2 linked regions of the Homo sapiens genome follow. The protein of the gene in region 1 purifies or fractionates together with the protein of each later gene. This does not show direct contact. Each region holds a gene or a part of one and is shown on either strand. Other genes may lie near its edges. The genes, in order: OR1A2 and EMC8.

Region 1 (3,233 bases):
TCAGGATACACCTATGTAGCCAATTCTCTGTATCAAATCTTCTTGGTATAAATATACCAAGTGTGATTTCTGTTTCCTGCATGGATCTTAACTGACCTTAACAGACATACCAGCTCTATAATACATGAATGAATACTATGCAGTTTGATTATGTTTATTCATTATCAGATTGTATTTCAGAAACTAATATTTTTATACATTTTCCTGCTTTCCACCAATATTTTATATGATCAAAATACTAAAAAAGTAAGTGATATGTTAACACAGCTTTTGCCACCAGAGTACAAGTATAGTAGGGGTGGCTAGACATAAAAGTCCAGTAAAGATTACATTAGAATAGTAATTTGCAGCCTTCAAAGCATGAGCCATTTTGATATACACAAGCTGTGTCAGAGAGTCCGGCAGATATTATTTTCCTAACATGTAGATATGCAAGCTGAGACTCAGACTTTTTCAACTTTACTCTGCTAGTAAATTTCTGCTAACTGGGACATGAACCTGATATTCCCAGCCTGCCACTCTCTCAAAAAAGAGCAGGAATTTGTCCAAAGTGATAATTTCAATAAAATATCACATCCGTTACAAGATTTCTGGTAGAGGAATTTCTGGCTCAAAAGAACAAAAGGAGCTTCTTGAAGGGCAATGACATTGGAGCTGGATTTCCAAGTGTATCCCACTTGGTCATTACAGTATCCAGCGTGTAATCTCACAGCGGCTATGAGGAGATTCTCTTGCTGAAGAGTTTCTGTAGGGCTGCCTTCATATCCCAATTTCTCAGACTATAGATGAAAGGATTTAATGCTGGGGTCACTGCCACATACATCACAGTTATCACTGCATCTTTGGGGCTGTAACTGGTCAGAGGGCGGAAATACATGCCCATCGTTGTACCATAATATAAAAAAACAACTGTGAGGTGGGAGCCACAGGTGCAGAAGGCTTTGAATAGACTCTTGGTAGATGGAACTTGGAAGACTGTGGAAAAGACCTGAACATAGGAGACAATGATGCATAGTAATGGCAAAGAGAAAACGCCGACCCCTAGGTACATCATCTTCACATTAAAGTGGACGTCAGAACAGGACAACTTCAGCAAAGGCATAATGTCACAGTAGAAATTGGCTACTTCCTGGTTGCCACAGAAGGACAAACTAGCTGTGAGCAGAGTGTGGGGGAGAGCACTGGTGTTTCCAATCACCCAAGACCCAGCAATAAGCAGGATACAAGACCGTGGACTCATAATTGTTGTGTAATGAAGTGGGCAGCTGATGGCCACAGCTCGATCGTATGCCATTGCAGCCAAGGTATAGCTGTCTGCCTTGGCCAAGGCTATCATGAAATACATCTGCATTAGGCATCCCCCAAAGGAGATGAACTTGCTCCCCAAGAGATGGTTGGCCAGCACCTTAGGGATGGTTACGGATGAGAAGATGATGTCAACCAAGGAGAGGTTGGCAAGGAGAAAATACATGGGGTTGTGAAGGCGAATGTCAGCACAGATGGCCAAGATGATGAGCAGATTTCCAGTCAGTGTGATGGGGTAAATGCACAAAAAAATCACAAAGAAGACATTATTCTGTTCTTGCTGACTAGTAACTCCCAGGAGAATAAAATCCAGGTTAAAGGATTGATTTTCTTTCTTCATGGCTTCTTCAGCATGAAAGGGGAGAGGAACCCAGAATTATTAGCGCAGTTAGTGTGTGTTATAGTCTGCCTTATCTACCACTTAAACGTTTTTAATTATTTTACAAATTCACCTGCTGTCAAACTTATCCACCACTTTTCATTAGCCATGGCTATACCTGGTTTTTACAATCATAAATATAGCCAGCACTTTTGGGTAAAATCTCTGTTGGTCAATGGGACGAACTCTCATTGACCTCCTGGACACTCATGTCAAAGAAGTTAGCGATCTGTGAAGTAAAGATGGTTGTCCTTCCAAATGTAGCACCACCACCTTAATATCTATAATTTAATCACATAACAAAAACCTAATTTCATGTTTCATGTCTTAGATTTTTTTTTACTTTGTAGAGAAACAATAAATATGTGAAAATACAGTTATTCATCCACTTATTTGTTACACAAGACATAGCATCTGTTCTCAAGGACCTTATAATTGAATAGGAAAGCCAGACTCACACAATAATTTTATTACACATGGTAAGAAAAGGATAGCCTCTTGGAGTCCTTGTGAAAAAAACAAACAAAAAATCCTCCAGTGCAAAGGATGTATCATAGTAGGAATGCAGTGAACAATTTAAAGTTGTTCCTCCAACCAGTCTCGGGGTGAGCCCAGAGCCCAGGAAGTCAGAGGTGTCTACACTGCCATCAGATTCTAAAACAGAAAGACAACTGGCATTAGGTCCTAGAAAAACAAGCTCAGTGAACTTACTCCACAGGTGTTCGATTTTCAAAGATATTCCCTATCTTTTTGACAGCTTTTCTCTCTTTTCAAAGCCCATAACTATACATAATCACAGTGCTTTTTCCACTGGCCTTTGTCTTGGTTCATTTTGTGTTGCTATAACAGAATACTTGAGACTGGGGAATTTATAAGAAAAGAGGTTGAATTGTCTCATGGATCTGTAGGCTGGGACATTCAAGAGCGTGGCCCTGGCTTCTGGCAAGGGCTTTCTTGCTGCATCATAACCTGTCAGAGAAGGTCAACAGGGAAGTGGATACAGGGGAAGAGAGAAAACCCGAGAAGTATACTGGTTTTATCACAACCCACTCCTGTAGGAACATTCCCTTAAGATTAATCCAGTCTTGAGAGAATGAGAACACACTTACTACCATGAGAACAGCACCAGACCACTCATGAGGGATCCACCCCCTTGACTCAAACGCTTCCCACTAGGCTTTACCTCCCAACACCTCCCACACTGGGGATCACATTTCAACATGAGTTTTGGTGAGGGCAAACTCAATCCATAGCAGTCTTCTCTTCCTTGTCTTCCTTATTTCTTTTTGTAGTAATCCAAGTCCACAGTGGATTCAACTATTCTTTAGTAAACTGTCATGTCTGTATCTGTGGTCTCGATTTCTTTTTCCCATATTTCCATATTCAGTCATCCTGCTAACATGTCTGACCAAACCCCACACTCTGCACTTAAAACCTAAGTAGTTTGCAAGATGTTTCTTTTCTTTTTTTTTTTTTTTTTTTGAGACAGAGTCTCACTCTGTTGCCCAGGCTGGAGTGCAGTGGCGAGATCTCAGCTCACTGCAAGCTC
Region 2 (3,500 bases), on another chromosome or scaffold:
GCTGGGATTACAGGTGTGAGCCACTGTGCCTGGCCTAAAAGACTTGTTTTGAAAGAGACTGAGATTCCCTTCTGGCTCTGTTTCTATCTGGTTGTGCAAACTTAGAACCTCTCTAAGCTTTGTTTCCTTAACTATGAAGGATAATGATTTAAATAATTTTAAGCATTTCTAAAGCCCCAGTTCTTTATAGTATAAGAGAAGGTAGGTGAAGGTCATCTTCCCTCTGACTCTCTGCAGCACTGTACCAATCCAGTACCTGTAGACAAAGGGTCTTCTCGCTGGGACTGAGGAAGATAGTCATTCCTTATGTTCAAAGTCCTGCCCTTCCTGACCATTTTTTCCTGAGTCCTACCCTTTCTTCTGGGGTGTAGGGTATGAGGATTAAGATTCTGTCATGTCTTGTCCCAGCATGTGGCAGTGAGATCTGTGGTTTTTACGACTTGATATTTAAGGGAGAGTCATTCATCTTTTCCCAATTTTTGTTCCTCTTTCAGATTGATTCATGGTGCAAAGATCATAGCTACGTGATTGCTGGTTATTATCAAGCTAATGAGCGAGTAAAGGATGCCAGGTACGTGGATGCAGAACCCTCTGTGGGCGAGGAAGTGAGCACGTGTTGGGCAGACCCCGTCTCTCGTGTGCTTTTCGGCCAGATACGAAACCTGTGAGACCTACACCCCTTCCCTCTGTGCTTATTTGTAGTATTTGAGGCGAACTGTGGTGTGGATAATTCCAAACAACAGAAATTCCAAACATTTCTATTAACTTTGGAATTCTGTTTTGTGTCTTCTTTATTTTGCATGAAGGGAATTCATACAATGAAAGCGACAGTTGGCTTCCGACTTCTGTCCCTGCTCAGCTCTGCCTTGCTTCCCCTTCCCAGACTAGGGGTGGTGTTGGGCAGAGCACTGGGAAGGAATGTTGCTCTATTTGCCGGTAAATAGACCAGCCTGTAGGTTTGGGGTCAGTACTCTGATGAAAATGTGGTATTTGCTGCCCCCTTTATACTGGCTCCTTCTTTCTTTTCCTTTATCCAGATCCTTCCCCAACTGGGGCTCTCGCTAATAACAAAGCTGAGAATTTTTCTATATGTCTGCGTCATCTTGGTCCCAACAGAAAAACAGATGACACACTCAGGTGGTGATAATCTGAGGAGGGCTTAATAAGCAGGCTGTTGACAAGGCCTGGGCCGTAGATAACGCACAGGGGGTCGTGCTGTAAACAAGGCTGGCGACAACAGCCCAAAGGGTGGGGAGGAAGGAGCTGGGTAAACAAGTCCACCTTGAGAAAAGCAGTGCCCTTGGGCAGGTGGCCACAGCCAGCCTGACGTGGCCTCCCATTAGGGGAGAGGTGGCCCAGAGCAGTCAGTACATGATGTCCCCCTTCCATTTTCCTTTGGCTGAACCGAGCCAGAAGCCAGATGGGCAGCTGGAAAGTCCACGCCGTATATAACGGGCATGCGTCAGGCTGCCCTGACGTGGCTTCCTCATGTTGTCAGATAGAGCCGACCCTCCAGTGTCCAGGGAGATGGGGGTGCAGTGAAGGGCCCTGCCGTTGGGTCCACTTGCTCAGCACAGATGAGAAGGTGAGCTCAAGCACTTTGGAAATAATACAGTAAGCTGGTGACAGCATTGCTATCACTGATGAGGCACCAGTGTTTCTGATGAGAAACATGGTATCCTAAAAGAAACCCAAATTTAGAAACATAATTATCTTACCCTAGGAGGGCTGGGTCCAGGCACAGGATCCTGAGGGAGGCAGATGTCCTAGGAGATGCTGCACTCAAAGTCAGTCCGCTGAAGCCTCTGCCAAGGCGGTTGGGAGTGCGTGGAATCCCCATGCACATTGGCTCTTCTGCTGCTTCCTCTGAGCCCACGAGCAGCACTGGCCTCTCCGCCTTCAGCGCATCTCTTCTGACTCTCACTGGGATGTCCTCTGTTTGATATCGCCTGCCTCCCTTTGTTGATGAATCAGTGCCTCCCCTCTCAGTGCCTTCACTGAGCGAGAGCCTACCCACGGGGCCACATCCATCTTAGTCTTTGTTACATGAAAGACTAGGCGTGGGCTGAGGAAAGCGCAGCCCTCTGGCCCTTGCCCTCACGTGGCTGAGTTGAACATGAAGGACAGTGCAAACACAGGCTGTGGTGCAGGACAGCGGCCCCTGCAGGGGGCTTGGTGGCAGGGGCCGGGAGACTTAGACCTGGTAGGATGATCCCAGAAGTCCAGGGCATGGTGTCCTGTAAACCAGGCCCTCGAGAGTGAGCAGGGCCTTGTCAAGTGCAGACGTGGAGACCAGGAGGTCAGCATTCCTGGTTGGGGGGACAGCAGACACAGGTGAGGACGTGGCAAGGGCTGGGGCCGTGCCCACATGGAGGGAGATGCTAGGAAGTGAGGCTGCACAGGTAGGTTGGGCCACAGCTGAGGGCTCCTCTGTGCTCAGAAGCATTTTGAACTTCACCTTGCAAGCAGTGGGGAGCACCCTTGGCAGGAAGGTGTTCCTGGACCAAGCAGTGTCTGCCGTGGCTGTCCCTGCAGAAGGGAGAGGAGACTGGGCAAGTGGGAATGGCACCAGGTTGTCAGATGAGGGCAGGGGCCTCCCTTTCCTTAATCCCCCACCTGCAAATCCATGCCTGATGTGGTCGCCCCACATGGACCTGCGCAGGCTCTCCTATGCTCCTCTCTGCGCATGCCTCATCTGGCTCACAGCTCTCATGTTCTTACCTCTGTGCTGACCTCGTTACAGCCCAGCCTGGAATTATCCTACTCGGACACAGTTTTCCTGCTCTCCATACCTTCCTTCTAGAATGTCCTCCCTATCCTCACCTAGTCCACGTCCTTCTGCGTCCTCCAGGAGGTTTTGCAGTCCTTCATTAATACTGACTTTTAAATGCATCCGGAGCAGCCATTTGTCAGATGTGTAGAGAGGATAAACCTTAGCTAGGAGTCTGCCACCCTGGAATAGGGAATCCACCTCCCCCTCCCCCGCTGTGCCCAGTTGTTTGAGGAGGACACCTCAGGTAGGTAATGCCGTGCTATCCCTGGGCTCTATCGGGGTCATTTTATTTCATCCTCACAGCAATGCACAAGTGAAGAAACCAGCCGGAGAAGGTGGCTTCTCAGAGGCCACACAGCTTGGGAGCTCAGGAGCTAGGATCATGCCAACTTCTGACTTAAGTATGGTTTTGCTTCTGCCTGGAAAACCTTCCCCTCTCTTCAGCCAGACCTAGCTGAAAATTTGCTCTTCTTATTCTAGAAATATTGCCTCATTCACAGTGTCTTGCAGCATGATTTGGAGCCAAGTAGACCTGGATTCAAATTCTAGGTGACTTACTGATTAACCTCCTTGGGCCTCTGTGGCCCTGTCTGTAAAATGGAGCTGAGCTCATGCCTCAGAGAGTAGTCATGAGGACAGAATGAAATTGCGCAGTGTGTTTGTCCTTGTGCTTGGTTTACAGTAGTGGCTGGTGCTGTTACTAGTGCTGTGATGACTTTTTCTATTA

What was found.
Region 2: the proteins of OR1A2 (region 1) and EMC8 purify together in Homo sapiens (affinity purification with mass spectrometry; one large-scale study listed by BioGRID and IntAct). This does not show direct contact.

The regions. Positions count from the first base shown.
Region 1 is NC_000017.11:3,195,931-3,199,163, reverse strand, and holds OR1A2 (olfactory receptor 1A2), read right to left. Parts: upstream 1,646-3,233; coding exon 716-1,645; downstream 1-715. UniProt on the Homo sapiens protein: Odorant receptor.
Region 2 is NC_000016.10:85,786,045-85,789,544, reverse strand, and holds part of EMC8 (ER membrane protein complex subunit 8), read left to right. Parts: intron 1-494; coding exon 495-571; intron 572-3,076; coding exon of another isoform or gene 3,077-3,174; exon of another isoform or gene 3,175-3,253; coding exon of another isoform or gene 3,254-3,288; exon of another isoform or gene 3,289-3,322; intron 3,323-3,500. UniProt on the Homo sapiens protein: Part of the endoplasmic reticulum membrane protein complex (EMC) that enables the energy-independent insertion into endoplasmic reticulum membranes of newly synthesized membrane proteins.